Linked DNA regions of Homo sapiens. The protein of the gene in region 1 purifies or fractionates together with the protein of each later gene. This does not show direct contact. Each region holds a gene or a part of one and is shown in the gene's direction. Other genes may lie near its edges.

Evidence for each region.
Region 2: the proteins of SAXO5 (region 1) and TARBP1 purify together in Homo sapiens (affinity purification with mass spectrometry; one large-scale study listed by BioGRID and IntAct). This does not show direct contact.
Region 3: the proteins of SAXO5 (region 1) and CADPS2 purify together in Homo sapiens (affinity purification with mass spectrometry; 2 studies listed by BioGRID and IntAct, with this or other methods). This does not show direct contact.
Region 4: the proteins of SAXO5 (region 1) and WDR47 purify together in Homo sapiens (affinity purification with mass spectrometry; 2 studies listed by BioGRID and IntAct, with this or other methods). This does not show direct contact.

What each region holds. Positions count from the first base shown.
Region 1 is NC_000019.10:7,496,355-7,500,416, forward strand, and holds the start of SAXO5 (stabilizer of axonemal microtubules 5), read left to right. Parts: upstream 1-1,193; 5' UTR 1,194-1,328; intron 1,329-4,062.
Region 2 is NC_000001.11:234,427,118-234,430,697, reverse strand, and holds part of TARBP1 (tRNA (guanosine(18)-2'-O)-methyltransferase TARBP1), read left to right. Parts: intron 1-396; coding exon 397-611; intron 612-1,020; coding exon 1,021-1,282; intron 1,283-1,373; coding exon 1,374-1,562; intron 1,563-2,931; coding exon 2,932-3,122; intron 3,123-3,309; coding exon 3,310-3,381; intron 3,382-3,580.
Region 3 is NC_000007.14:122,883,594-122,887,601, reverse strand, and holds the start of CADPS2 (calcium-dependent secretion activator 2), read left to right. Parts: upstream 1-1,141; 5' UTR 1,142-1,264; coding exon 1,265-1,603; intron 1,604-2,156; exon of another isoform or gene 2,157-2,208; intron 2,209-4,008. UniProt on the Homo sapiens protein: Calcium-binding protein involved in exocytosis of vesicles filled with neurotransmitters and neuropeptides. Probably acts upstream of fusion in the biogenesis or maintenance of mature secretory vesicles.
Region 4 is NC_000001.11:109,014,599-109,018,178, reverse strand, and holds part of WDR47 (WD repeat-containing protein 47), read left to right. Parts: intron 1-577; coding exon 578-661; intron 662-3,580.

The sequences.
Region 1 (4,062 bases):
CCTCACCTGTGTGTTGTTTTTATTTGTTTTTATCTGCTCATCTCAAAAAAGAAAGTAAAATTTCCAACCAATAAATTCATCCCACCCAAATCCCCTACTTCCTTAAGCTGTGCCCCCAAAACACCGAGCAGAATTGCAAATCCCATAATAAGTGCTTTCTGGCCGGGCGTGGTGGCTCACGCCTATAATCCCAGCACTTCGGGAGACTGAAGCGAGCGGATCACCCGAGGTCGGCAATTCGAAACCAGCCTGACCAACATGGAAAAACCCCATCTCTACTAAAAATACAAAATTAGCTGGGTGTGGTGGCACATGCCTATAATCCCAGCTACTCGGGAGCCTGAGGCAGGAGAATCACTTGAAGCCGGAGGTTGCGATGAGCTGAGATCGTGCCACTGCACCCCAGCCTGGGCAACAAGAGCGAAACTCCATCTCAAATAAATAAATAAATAAATAAATAGCGAAAAAAAGTTCTTTCTAACACCTCCCTACTGAGACCGCCATAGTGCCCTATGACATGTATGAGCTCTCTCTCCCTCTCTCTTTCTTTCTCTCTCTCTCTCTGATGAATAATAAGCTTGAATGTGTTCAATCACAGGTACATTCCTGGTGGTCTTTGACTGGGGAAGGAGGGGTGACCGGCCCCTTTAAAGGGAGATCTGTGAGCCCTAGAATAATATCAAGAGGTGCAGTGATTCAGGGAAGTGGGTCCATTCTGTGTGGGGTGTGTAGAAGGTAGAGGGACAGAAAAACTTTAGAGGATGATAATAATAATGGACACCAGCAGCCTATTTAATCAAATCCTCAATACTGACACTGCTTTCTGAACTGGCTACCATCATTAGTCCCCTTTTGCAGATGACAAAACCTAAGTCCTAGCCAGGCATGGTGGCACACACCTGTGGACCCACCCACTTGGGAGGCTGAGGCGAGAGGATCGCTTGAGCCCAGGACTTCAAGTCCAGCCTGGGCAACATAGCGAGAGCTTACCTCAAAAACAAAACCAACCGAACAAAACCCCAGAGGCTCCAAAAAGTCAATTACTTGCCTGGGTTCCTGGAGCTCTAAGGAGGCAGTATTCGCACCAAGCCTGCCTGCTAATTTTCCTCCCGGCTGCCCCTAGAGGTGCTGAGTGGTCATTGTGACAGTATCATTACACAAAGGAAGCTCTTGGGGTCACAATGCGCAGGGCTGGACCACCCTTGGATGCAGCCTGGGAAGGAACATGAGGATCCTCTGAGAGACCAGGGACAGAGGGAGACCCAAAGATCTGGTCTGTAGCTAAGTGAATTTTCTAAAACTCATTGATTCACACGCCATCCCTTGAGGTAGGTGCACTGTCCTCGTCCCTGATGTACAGAGGTGAAAACTGAGGCTCATGGGAGCTTAATGACTTATTCCAAGATTACCTGGCTAGTAGTCTCAGTTGTTGGATTCTCTGATGACCCATTTTGGAGGTCATATTCAACTCTCAACTATTGCAGGGGGCAAATGATTCAAAAAGCAGCAAACTCAGCCAGGCGCGGTGGCTCATGCCTGTAATCCCAGCATTTTGGGAGGCCGAGGAGGGTGGATCACCTGAGGCTAGGAGTTCGAGACCAGGCTGGCCAACATGGCGAAACCCCGTCTCTACTAAAAATACAAAAATTGGCCGGGCGTGGTGGCGGACACCTACAGTCCCAGCTACTCTGGAGGCTGAGGTGGGAGAATCGCTTGAATCCAGGAGGAAGAGGTTGCAGTGAGCTGAGAAAAAAAAAAAAGCAACAAACTTACACACTGAAAAACTGTGGTTTCATTAAAACACACACACACACATACACACACACACACACACACACACACACACCCTTCATCCATGTTTTCTTTCTATTTTTGTGATGGGGTTTCGCTCTGTCACCCAGGCTGGAGTGCGGTAGCGTGGTCTCGGATCACTGCAACCTCTGCCACCCAGGTTCAAGCGGTTCTCCCGCCTCAGCCTTCTGAGTAGCTGGGATGACAGGTGCATACTACCATGCCCAGCTAATTTTTGTATTTTTTTCTTTTTTTTTTTTTTTTTTTTGAGACAGAGTTTCGCTCTTGTTGCCCAGGCTGGAGTGCAATGGCGCAATCTTGGCTCACCACGACTTCTGCCTCCTGGGTTCAAGCTATTCTCCTGCCTCAGCCTCTGGAGTAGCTGGGATTACAGGCATGCGCCACCACGCCTGACTAATTTTGTATTTTTAGTAGAGATGGGGTTTCTCCATGTTGGTCAGGCTGGTCTTGAACTCCGACCTCAGGAGATCTGCCCACCTCGGCCTCCCAAAGTGCTGGGATTATAGGCCTGAGCCACTGCACCCGTCTGATCCATGTTTTCTAAATAGGTAGAGGTAAGCAGGTTTTGTGGGTTGAAGTGATCTGGGAGGTCTTCCTGCAAGAGGTGAGCCTGAGAACTTGGAATGCTGGTCTCCAAGGGAGACAGAGAGGAGAGCATGGGAGACACTTGTGATCTAAGCAAAGGCAAGAAAGTCCCAGGTGACTGAGCAGAGGCGGAGGGTCAGGGGAGGCTTGGAGTCTGAAGCTGAAGGTCAGAGGAGAGAGCTAACTCTCAGAAGGTGTGAAGACAGGAAGAGATTGAGAATAGGCAGGACCTAGGACAACTGCAGAGCAGGGGAAAACCAGTAAGAAAGTGCGTGGCAGGCCGGGCACAGTGGCTCACACCTGTCATCCCAGCACTTTGGGAGGCCAAGGCAGACAGATCACTTGAGGTCAGGAGTTCGAGACCAGCCTGACCAATGTGGTGAAACCCCGTCTCTACCAAAAATACAAAACTTAGACGGGCATGGTGGCAGGTACCTGTTATCCCAGCTACTTGGGAGGCTGAGGCAGGAGAGTCAGTTGAATCCAGGAGGTGGAGGTTGCAGTGAGCTGAGATCGTGCCACTGTACTCCAGCCTGGGGGACAGAGTGAGACTCTGTCACAAAAAGAAAAGGAAAGAAAGAAAGAGAGAGAAGGTAGGGAAGTGAAAGGAGCGGAGGGGAGGGGGGAGGGGCGGGGGAGGGGGAGAGAAGGGAGAAAAAGTGTGGCAGAAACGGAGATGGCCAGTGGCTGGGGTGCAGGGCTGGAGTTAGGCAGAGGAACAAAAATGGGTCCCCCAGAGGGGAAGAAGGAGAAAACCGTGGCCTTGACAACTGACTGAGGGTGAGAAGACGCGGTTCTTGTATCAGACATACAGTAGAATGCAGTGGTTAATTCTCCAAGTTCTAGAATCAGAGTCGCCCTGGGTTCAAATCTCAAGCAAATGACCACCTCCCTGAGCCTCAATGTCTTTTGTGAAGCAGTGGTTAAAACCTACCCTTGGCCAGGCATGGTGGCTAACACCTGTAATCCCAGCACTTTGGGAGGCTGAGGCAGAAGGGTTGCTTGAGCCCAGGAGTTTGAGACCAGCCTGAGCAACATAGCCAGACCCCTGTCTCTAAAAAAAAAAATAGAAAGAATTAGCCATGCATGGTGGTGCACACCTATAGTCCCAGATGCTCAGAAGACTGAGGTGAGAGGACCGTTTGAGCCCAAGAGGTTGAGCCCACCACACTTGTCTAATTTGTGTGTGTGTGTGTGTGTGTGTGTGTGTGTGTGGAGACGGGGTCCCACTATATTGCCCAGGCTGGTCCTGAACTCCCGGGCTCAAGCAGTCCTCTTGCTCTGACCTCTCACTGTGCCTGGATACAGGTGTGAGTCACAGTACCCAGCTATTACCTTCTAACCTACTCTTCAATTTTTGTTGTTATATTTTTTATTATTGTCTGTCATCTCCCGCCCCATTATCAATTCCACAAAGGCAGGGATCTAGGTCTATTTTGTGAACTAATGTTAGTTCCCCACCCCTGCTGGCCTCCAGGCCTAGAGTAGGGACAGAAATCATTTATGTGGTGCCTACTGTGTGCCAGGCCTACAGTAGGCACCACATGAAAGATTTTTTTTTATGTTTTGAGACGGAGTCTCGCTCTGTCGTCCAGGCTGGAGTGCAATGGCACAATCTCGGCTCACTGCAACCTCTGCCTCCCGGGTTCAAGCGATTCTCCTGCC
Region 2 (3,580 bases), on another chromosome or scaffold:
TAAAATAAGGCTCACCCATAGGAATGCTGCATGCAGATGTGTATGCGAGTAGGAGAAAGGTCAAGAAGGACTTACACACAGCTTTGGGTTCTGTACGTAGCGAATCTGTCATGTACTAGTTCCAGGTACCTGTTTACCAGATGAAAAGATCCCATTGTTGTCTTAATCTAAATTGCTGAGTTCTTATTGCTACTTTAAAATTGTTCACTGCCAATCTGTAGAGAAGTAGTGGAAGTGAATGATGTGTACTGGATTTCCTTTTATTTCTCCTGATATTCAGGAGCAGGCAGGAAGAGGGAAAAGGAGAGCTTGAGCTTTCCATAGACTGGCAACTGAGGTCATTACTGATTAAGACTTGTGCATATTAAATAAAACATTGTCACATTTCCTTTTCAGGAGCCAACAGTTGGAAGTCAGATTCAGAGAGTAGTGAGCATGGCTGCCTTGGCCATGGTGTGTGAGGCCATAGACCAGAAGCCTGAGCTGCAGCTGGACTCTCTCCATGCTGGGCCCCTGGAAAGCTTCCTTTCCTCTCTTCAGCTCAATCAGACGCTGCAGAAGCCCCACGCAGAGGAGCAGAGCAGTTATGCTCACCCCTTGGAGTGCAGCAGGTACAGGGAAGGTTAAGGCTTAAAAATCCATTTCTGTTGTTGTCACCGTGAGTTCATGATTGCCCAACATTGCTTATAAAGTTATAGAATTTTGGGGCTGAAGCTCCATTCAGGATGAAAGTGTGGTATAACATTATTCATCTCTGTTACTGGAGACTTGCTGACTTTTCTGCATCTAGTTTTCACTGAATCATTTCAGATGAGCAAAAGTACCTACTTTCAGAGAAGTTAGAAAATTAAGGTTTATGTGGTTTCCTTAGTTTTTGGTAGATAGGCTGTTTGATAATGACCATTTATATCTGTACACTGCCCCCCCCCCCCCACCTTTAGAAAGGATAGTGTGCTACGTGCAAAAGACGTGGAGGCAAATTGGGGAAGTATGGCCTAGTAACTTTATTTTTTATTTCAGTGTTTTGGAAGAATCGTCATCTTCCCAAGGATGGGGAAAAATAGTTGCACAATATATTCATGATCAATGGGTGTGCCTCTCTTTCCTGTTGAAAAAATATCACACCCTTATACCAACCACAGGGAGTGAAATTCTGGAACCGTTTCTACCTGCCGTTCAGATGCCAATAAGGACTTTGCAGTCTGCACTAGAAGCCCTCACAGTTCTTTCTTCTGATCAAGTTTTACCAGTGTTCCATTGCTTGAAAGTGTTGGTTCCCAAGGTAAGATAGAGTGAAACATGAATTGAACAGTAACTATAGGAGTGGCGATCAAGTTTTTGAAATAAGTATGTATTTTTTTTTTTCCTACCAGCTTCTGACTTCCTCTGAATCACTCTGCATAGAGTCTTTTGACATGGCGTGGAAAATTATATCTTCTTTAAGCAACACTCAGCTGATATTCTGGGCTAATTTAAAAGCTTTTGTTCAGTTTGTTTTTGATAACAAAGTTCTTACCATTGCTGCCAAAATCAAGGGCCAGGCATATTTCAAAATAAAAGAGGTAACTAACTTTCTTTTCTTTTTGCTTTTCTTTTCATGTGTGTGAGCTTCAGCACATGAGGAACATGAGAGTTGTATTCACAATTAGATTTTTGGCTCTTTATTCCTTCAGTCAAAAATATTTTTGAACCTTCTTAAATATCAAGAGTAAGAATGAGAAAATCTGACAGATGTAGAAGAGAAGGTACAAAACGGTAGCCTGGAGCCACATCTGCCTCAGAAACGGTTTGTTTGGTTCATACAGTGTTTAAAATTTTGATTACCTGGCAACTTTTAATTGTTGGGAAATCTGGCCAGGCGGGGTGGCTCATGCCTGTGATCCCACCACTTTGAGAGGCTGAGGCGGGCGGATCACGTGAGGTCAGGAGCTCGAGACAAGCCTGGCCAACGTGGCAAAACCCCGTCTTTACTAAAAATACAAAAATTAGCCAGGTGTGGTGGCGCACGCCTGTAATCCCAGCTACTCAGGAGGCTGAGGCAGGAGAATTGCTTGAACCCAGGAGGCGGTGGTTGCAGTGAGCTGACATCACGCCACTGCACTCCAGCCTGGGCAACAGAGCAAGACTCCATCTCAAAAAAAAAAAAAGTTGGGAAATCTGTATGAAAAACTGGATTTCTTGGAAATGAGGTAATCTAGCAACACTGGTCATTCTTCCATGACAATGTAATTGATCGCTCGGTTGAGTAGGAGTTGGCATGCTCTTTCCACAATCAGTCTCATTTCACCCGGATACTTGAAGGCAAATGTCAGGCGCCATTTGTCATTGCACTTTGGCTGAGGTTTTTTTTTGTGTGTGTAGAGAAATATTTTTCTGACTGTAACCCTTATCAAAAGGTCTTGCTGGTTTCTGGAGGTATTTTCATTTGCAGCTACTGAGATAGGAACATACCAAGGTGGAGTTCCAGTGTACCTCCTGATCCCCAGGGGAACAGGGAGAGTCAGATTCCGTTATTTCTCTGCAGCCCTGTGCTGCCTTTCTTGGTCCTTTTCTGCCCCACAGTACATAGTTAGAGACGCTGGTCTTTGCTGCCTCAGCCAAAGGAAGGCCACTGGCAAAATGCAAACAAAGGAAGCTGAATGTGTGTGGGGTGAGGTGTTTTTCCCCTTTGATTCTACTGCTTTGGCAGTTGTTTCTCTTGAAGAGTCCTGGATGAATATCACTATCAGTAAAATTTTATTTATTTTTATTATCAAGAGATGAAATAGCATTCTCTGATTATTGATCATCTCGCAAAGTTATTCTAACAGTAATGAATTTAACAGTTTTTAGACTGTTCATGATTATGTTGAAACTAAGTAACAGTTTTTAGCAGCACTGATTTTTTAAAAACTAAATCAAGGATAAAATGACGGTTGTATTTTATTCCAGATTATGTACAAGATAATTGAAATGTCTGCTATAAAGACTGGAGTCTTCAATACACTGATAAGTTACTGCTGTCAGTCTTGGATAGTGTCTGCTTCAAATGTGTCCCAAGGATCTTTATCAAGTGCTAAAAATTATAGCGAACTTATCCTTGAGGCTTGTATATTTGGAACTGTGTTTAGGCGTGATCAAAGGTAAAAGATGCTATTATTTCAACTGGTCATAACTTGTATTAAGTGCCTACTTGGGTATAGAATTATGTCTTTGTTTTGAGGCTTTCAATTAAAAGAATATAAATTATTAGTTAACTTTAACCTTGGGGATTTAATTTTTTTTCTATTTAAAACCTGTTGTTCTTTATCAAATGTTTTTTATGGAAAGACTTGTTCAGGATGTACAGACCTTCATAGAAAACCTTGGACATGACTGTGCGGCAAATATTGTTATGGAAAAGTAAGTATGGTAGATTTTCTCTGTCTTCACATAAATGAGATACTAAAAATTTAACATCATATGACAAACATTCTGTATTTGCTAAATTTAATAAGTGACATCTAATATATTAATAAGATGGGATGAGCCTTTAAAAGTATGTTAGAAATTATAGTCCCTTGCTAATACATTGTCTTTACATCTTTCAGTATTCACTAGA
Region 3 (4,008 bases), on another chromosome or scaffold:
TGCCTATTTCCCCCTCTGTCAGGACTTAGGACATAAGATACAGAATTACTATAAGAAACTCCTAGGTGGTTCCAGCACTAGGACTGAGAAATCTGCGCAGATAAGGCAGGCTTCAGCGCAGCTACAAGACGCCGACTTGAGGCCAGAACCACCAGCGACTGAGTGTCATGTGCCTTAGTCACCGCGGGCTCCGCAAAAGGCTAACAGTGCTGGACACCGGGAGGGCGCTCAAATCTTTGTTGAATAAATGTCCACACTACACAACCTGTTTTGAGTCAACTGCATCCCAACCCAGAAAATAATCGAGATATGTTTGAGCTGAATCAGTATCATTTTGCACATATAAAATCTCTCTTGCCTTGAGTCTGCAGGACTAGAACAGTTTAAAAAGTAAGCCTCGTTGGTTTTCTTTTTTTTTTCATTACTCCGACTTTTATAATTTGGGCTTCAGCATGAGTATCAAAACGGCAGCAGAGCAGAGTGAGACTTTTCAAAGTCTTGTCGCAAAGATACTTCGTGGTGAAGGGCTCCAGTCCCGCTTTTCCGCGCTGGGGTTCAATCCTAGGCAGCCGATTCGGGTTGGGGAGATGTCTCGGCCGCTCCCCCTAACCTCTTGCTAGGGAACAGTCCCTCCCCGCTCCCCATTCCACCTCCACCTGCTGGAGAAAAGATCACAGGTGGTAGGGTGAGGGTAGTCGGAGCAGCCCCGGTGGACGCTTACACGGGCCATCGCGCTCGGCCGCTCCCCGCCTTTGCAAACTGTGTGCTAGGGCTCCAGGCGGGCCCGGGCAGCAGCGGCGGCGCGCGCACGCGCACTCCGCGGCCCCGCGCGGCTCTTCAACATTCAATTCCACGTGTTGCTTGTTGTAGGCGCCACAGGTTCCCCACCTGCGTCCGGGCGCTCGGGCGGCTCCGCCTCTGCCGGCGGGCTCTGGGGAACCGCTGGGTCGGCGCGCCCGGGGCTGGCGGAGCAATTCCTGAGGCGCCCAAGCTCACCCCCAACGCTAACTCCGCCTATTCAGTCCCGGCGGCTCCCCCTCTCCCCCCTCCCAATCCTCCTCCCGGCTCCTGCCCGCCCCTTTCGCCCTGGTGGTAGGAAACACTCCTGAATCTAACTCGACGTGTCCGGAAAGCCCTGGCCAGTTTTCCTTTCGTTCTGCGGCCGCTGCAGCCAGCCCCGCGGCTCCCTCAGACCCGCGGGCGCAGCCGCCGGGGGTGAGGCGCTTGGGGACCGCGGGCCGAGCGGCGGGGATCCCCGAGCACCATGCTGGACCCGTCTTCCAGCGAAGAGGAGTCGGACGAGGGGCTGGAAGAGGAAAGCCGCGATGTGCTGGTGGCAGCCGGCAGCTCGCAGCGAGCTCCTCCAGCCCCGACTCGGGAAGGGCGGCGGGACGCGCCGGGGCGCGCGGGCGGCGGCGGCGCGGCCAGATCTGTGAGCCCGAGCCCCTCTGTGCTCAGCGAGGGGCGAGACGAGCCCCAGCGGCAGCTGGACGATGAGCAGGAGCGGAGGATCCGCCTGCAGCTCTACGTCTTCGTCGTGAGGTGCATCGCGTACCCCTTCAACGCCAAGCAGCCCACCGACATGGCCCGGAGGCAGCAGAAGGTGAGTTGCGGGACCGGGCGCCTCCTACCACCACTTCTCCCTGGGTTTTTCTCCCGGGAGAGCTCTGGGACGCCTCCCGTCCTTCTGCGAAACGCAGGACACCGTATTTTTGTTAGTCTCTGAGGGCAGAGGAATCTTTGGGGACAAGACGGTGCTTTCACCCGCCGGGTATGCGGCTGCAGCGGACACCTCTTCTCCTCCTCCCCGCCTGGGCTGGCAGGAGCTGTCAGCTCACCATCCGTGAGACAGAGACCGACAGCGCCGGCCGCGCCGCGGTTGCACCCGGCAGGCGCAGCTCTGGCCGGATTAGAATGCAACTCCCATCAACTTTAATTTCCAACAGCACTGGTGCATTCCTGTCCACCTAGCCTGGCGTGATATTGCTAGAGCTGGGTTTGCCGAGGGTCTGAATGAGTGTTGTAGCTAGGCGAAACAGGTGGAGCCCGAGTACTTCTCTTAGCTAGAGTGAAGTCTTCACTTAAGAGGGGTAGAAATTTTCCTCAGTGAATAAAAAAGTTAAATTAATACGTTTCCTATATTGTCATACAACCAGGACATCAAATCCAAACACCGAGAAGGCATGCAGCTTTGTAAAGTGTTTGTGGGTAAGTAATTTCTGGTCTGGGCAGGCCTGATTAATGAAATATACTATTACTGATGAAAGATAAAGGATTGGTGCATGATCACTTCATAACAAATGCTTTCCAAATGCTTTTTTGGGGAACAAAATGCTTATTCTCCCCCAAAAGGTAAGAAGTTTGTTTCAGGTGAAAGGCTGGCCAACTTGAGTTTCAAAACAAGACCCCAGGGGCCTGATGTTCTGTACCAGACACGAGTAATGACTCAAATTGTCCTAAGTGGTTAAATGTTTACAATACAAACTCTAGGAAATCTTTTTAATAGAATGCTGAACCTGGAAGGTTCTGTAGAAATCGGTAACAGTTCCCTCAGTTTGTGACAAGACCTAGAGATCCAGAGAGATTGTAGTCTGCTCAAGGCATACCTACATGCACAGACATTTATTAGTTTTCTGAAATATTAACTTCAGTGTGTGAGGCATTTTTAGAAATTTGGAGAGGTTTTGAGTTGACTTCAACTATAACTGTAGTTCAGAGTAAATTCAGTCTCCCTACATTCTCCTACCCCCATTTAGATAACCTTTATTTTTTGAGGTATAATTGACATGTAAAAAGCTGTGCATACCACTCCACCCTAACTATTGGTGGTTTCATAGGTGTATAAGTATCATGGGGATAAGTACACACCTATAGTTAACACTATTGTATGCTTAAGATCTATCCTCTTAGAAAAAAATTTTAAGTGGTCTTACCCAACTTTTTAAAACACACACAAACTGAGCAACTATTTTGGAATCATTTATTCTCTGGGAATCCTTATGGAATATTTCCTTACAGCTGGAGATTAATAACAGATCCTTCAGGTAACCTAACCCTAGGTATTCAGTCACAGAATGGTAGGGAGACTCCTCATGTTGGAGAAGAGAAATAGGTCATAATAGCATTTCCCAATCCCAAACAAATTGGCACAGTTAAAACCACCATTACTCAGGTAAGTTTTGAATGCCCCGCGGTGTTTTTATGAGCCTGCTGCTCCACTCCTGTATGAATCCCATACTTCCTAATCAGCTGCTCTAATTGAGTCTGTTCTGAGGCAGTCACCCGTGGCCTCTTCTCAATTCTAGTCAAGCGACTGTCAGCTTCAATAGTCATTGTTAAAACTATTTTTTGTATATGTTGTGGTATGAGTTCATATCATCCAGTCTCTAGTTTTACCATTCATATTGCATTTAAGCCTATTTTTAATGATTAAAGTGTAAAAATAATGTTTGGTAAAATTAAGAGACTATTTTCTCCTTGGAATATTATCCTTGAAGATGCTTTTGCAAATTTACTATGAGTTGATTTATACTGTGAATACTTGTTGCATTTTGTTAATGAAGTGGACCCTCCCTTAGCTGTTCAAATAGTGCATTTTTCTCTGACTCCTTCTGTTTAAATATTTGTTCAAAATTATTTGAATTGGCAAGCAGGTGCATTCACAATACTACTGGGGAGACTATTGTTATAACCTTATCCAGGCATTACCAAAGATAATTTCAAACTACAAAAAAAGCAAAATACAACATATATTCTATGAAAAAAAATAGAATCCTTAGGAATTTCCACATTCTAAATGCTTAGAGCATTGAGCACAGGTTAACTTTTGTGAATTACTTTTATTTTTTATTAAGATGGATGCCAAATAGCCTAAGTATTTACTTTACTCAACCCTCCCCCACCTTTTAAAAAATGTGCTGCTTACTAAAGGGAGCTGGAGCAACTTTTGGCAGTCTGGTTTCCTCTTAGGGCAAAATGAAATGGGAATTTAACTATGTTTATGTGAAT
Region 4 (3,580 bases), on another chromosome or scaffold:
CCACGCCTGGCATGTCCAATGTTTTTACATAGGTCAAAACCCACATATATATAGTTAGTATGAGTGGTTGCAGATTCACAAATTCTTCTCATACAGTGTATGTTGTTACAAATAAGTTATGAAAAATTTAGGCCAGGTGAGGTGACTCACGCTTGTAATCCCAGCACTTTGAGAGGCTGAGGTGGGTGGATCACCTGAGGTCAGGAGCTTGAGACCAGCCTGGCCAACATGGTGAAACCCTGTATCTACTAAAAATAGAAAAGAATTAGTGGGGCTTAGTGGTGCGAGCCTATAGTCCCAGCTTCTCGGGTGTCTGAGGCAGGAGAATCGCTTGAACACAGGAGTCAGAGGGTGCAGTGAGCCGAGATTGTGCCATTGCACTCCAGCCTGGGCAACAGAGCGACACTCTGTCTCAAAAAAAAAAAAAATTATGAAAAATTTATTTGAGGAATCAAATAAAATGTTAATCTCATTGTGTGCTTTATGAAGTTTGAATGCTGTTTTGTCATCTGTTCTGCTTTTAATTAGTATAACCTGAATTTGGTGACATGCTGGTTTTTTTAAATTTTTTATTTAGGCAGCTAATACTTGATGGTCAATGGGATGAAGTTCTTCAGTTCATTCAGCCTCTAGAATGTATGGAAAAATTTGACAAAAAAAGGTAAGATTTTATCTAAAGTTTTTAGTGTCTCATCATTGGTAGAAGCTTAGCAAAACAATGAACAAAAATTTTCATTTTCATTTTTCTTTCTCCACTGGCCTTGAACAGAGAGTAAACAAATTGATCTCTCTCTGTCACCCAAGCTGGAGTGTGGTGGCATGATCACAGCTCACTGCAGCCTTGGTCTCCTGGGCTCAAGCAATCCTCCCACTTCAGCCTCTCAAGTAGCTGGGACTATACAGGCGTGTACCATCAGCCTAGCTAATTTTGTATTTTTTTTAGAGTTAGGGTTTCACCATGTTGCCCAGGCTTCCCTTGTGTTCATTTGGATTATTTTAAGTTGATTTAATGTTCACTGACCCTTTCTTTTGCTATTAGCAATCTGTTGATAAATTGTGAATTTTTAAAAACAGGTTCTTGTTCTACCACCAGGCTGATGTGCAGTGGCATGTATGTGGCACTGCAGCTTCAAATTCAACAGTGAATTTTTCATTTTGAATATTGTGCTTTTCATTTTCAAATTCGTATAATTTTTTTGTAAGATTTTTCCATCTGTTCATTCATTATGATTATATTTTTCTTTAGGTCCTTCAACATACTGAGAGTAGCTGCTTGTTTGCTAGTGTAGTCCTTGTTTGGTAATTTGGACTTGTGCTTGCTTATATCAGGCTCAGTTTCTAATGATTGCCTTTTCTCCTAACTGGGAGTCACTTTTTGTTTTTTTTTTTAACTATATCTAATTATTTTGTAAATGTAATCTGCACATTTCAGCTTCACTCTTGAGGCTCTGAATTCTGTTCTCTTCCTACATAAAAAGTTTGATTTTCATACAGGCAGTTATTTAACTTAGGTAGCCTCAAAATGCAAACTCTTTCTCCCCTCTTGTGGATACCAGAGATTTGTCCCGAAATCTCTGCTCAGTTCTTTGGCCTTTCATCTGTTTTCTCCAGGCTCCTTGGAGTCTCCCTTGCATCTTCACAGTTTAGGGGATAGCCAGGGATATGGGTACCTAAGTTTATACAGTAGATTTTGGTATGTTTCCTACTGTGACGTCGTCCTTTTTTTGGATCTTCCTCTCATTTTTTAGCTGCTCTGGCAGTACCAAACTTTTTTTTTGAGACAGGGTCTCATTCTGTTGCCCAGGCTGGAGTGCAGTGGTGTGAACACAGCTCACTGTAGCCTTACCTCCTGGGCTCAAGTGATTTGCCTGCTTCAGACTCCTGTGTGGCTGGGACTGCAGGCGTGTGCCACCCCGCTAGGCTAATTTTTAAATTTTTTGTAGAGACCAGGTCTGACTTTGTTGCCCAGGCTGGTCTCGAACTTCTGGGCTCAAATAATCCTCTTGCCTTGGCCTCTCAAAGTGCTAGGATTACAAGTATGAGCCACTTTGTTCAGTCAGTACCAGACTTTTCAAGCTACAGCCTTCTGTTTGAGTTCTAGCTCACACTGTGTGAACTGGGGAGTGCCCTCAGCTGGAAAGCCTTATGCTGTTGAATATAACCCCTTAAATTTCTGGGTTTTTTTTTTTTTTTTTTGAGATGGAGTCTCACTCTGTCACCCAGGCTGGAATGCAGTGGTGCGATCTTGGCTCACTGCAACCTCTGCTTCCCAGGTTCAAGCGATTCTCCTGCCTCAGCCTCCCGAGCAGCTGGGACTACAGGCATGCACCACTGTGCCTAGCTAATTTTTGTATTGTTAGAAATGGGGTTTCACCATGTTGGTCAGGCTGGTCTCGAGCTCCTGACCTCGTGATCCACCCACCTTGGCCTCCCAAAGTGCTGGGATTACAGGCTTGAGCCAACGCACCTGGCAAATTTCTCTTTTTTTAAGGATTGACTTCCCTCTAGTTGTGCCAGCTTTTCAAATGCATTCAAAATAGTCATTTTTTGAGGCCAGGCGTGGTGGCTCACGCCTGTAATCCCAGCACTTTGGGAGGCCGAGGCAGGCGGATCACTTGAGGTCAGGAGTTGGAGACCAGCCTGGCCAACATGGCGAAATCCTGTCTCTACTGAAAATACAAAAAAAAATTGGCTGGATGTGGTGGCACATGCCTGTAATCCCAGCTACTTGGGAGGCTGAGGTAGGAGAATCACTTGAAACTGGGAGGCAGGGGTTGCAGTGAGCCGAGATCGTGCCACTGCACTCCAGCCTGGGCGACAGAGCAGGACTCTGTCTCAATCAGTCAATCAATAAACAAACAAATAAATAAAATCACCTTTTTTTGGTATTTTATGTAAGATTTATTGTTGTTATATGCAGAAATGTTAGCCAGATATAAGTTACTCTATCACTATCAGAAGTTGAACCTGTTGTTATTTTTTGATTTGCTATTCAGACCATGCTGCTTGATATTTCTTTGCGTTTGTACATTCTTTACTTACCTGGAATATTAATCCCTTCACCATCTCCTGCCTTTACCTGGTACACTTCTGATTGTCTTCTGAGAGTCAGTTGTTATGTCTTTTTTTTGTTAACTTTCCACCTCTTTTGTACAATTGGTTTCATACTTTTTTGAGGCCTTGCTGAACTCTGAATATTTCATATAATTTATTAGGTGACCCTCTTTTTGAAGGCAGGGATTTTGTTTTATTGGACACAATTTGCTACTACAACAGTGGCTGAAAGAATGACTGAAGGTTCATTATTTTTTTCTTTCCAGACTTGGAAACACTTTTTCTATAAATTGCTTCAGGCAATAAAGCTTTTGATTCTTAGACAGGTTAGGTAGACTCTTTGCTATCCCTTCCCCTCTGAAAAACTCTTGTTAAAAAGCTTTAAATTGGGACCAGGTGCAGTGGCTCATACTTGTAATCCAAGCACTTTGGGAGGCTGAGGCAGGAGAATTGCTTGAAGCCAGGAATTTGAGATCAGTCTGAGCAACAAAGTGAGACCCGGTCTCTACAAAACAATTTTAAAAAT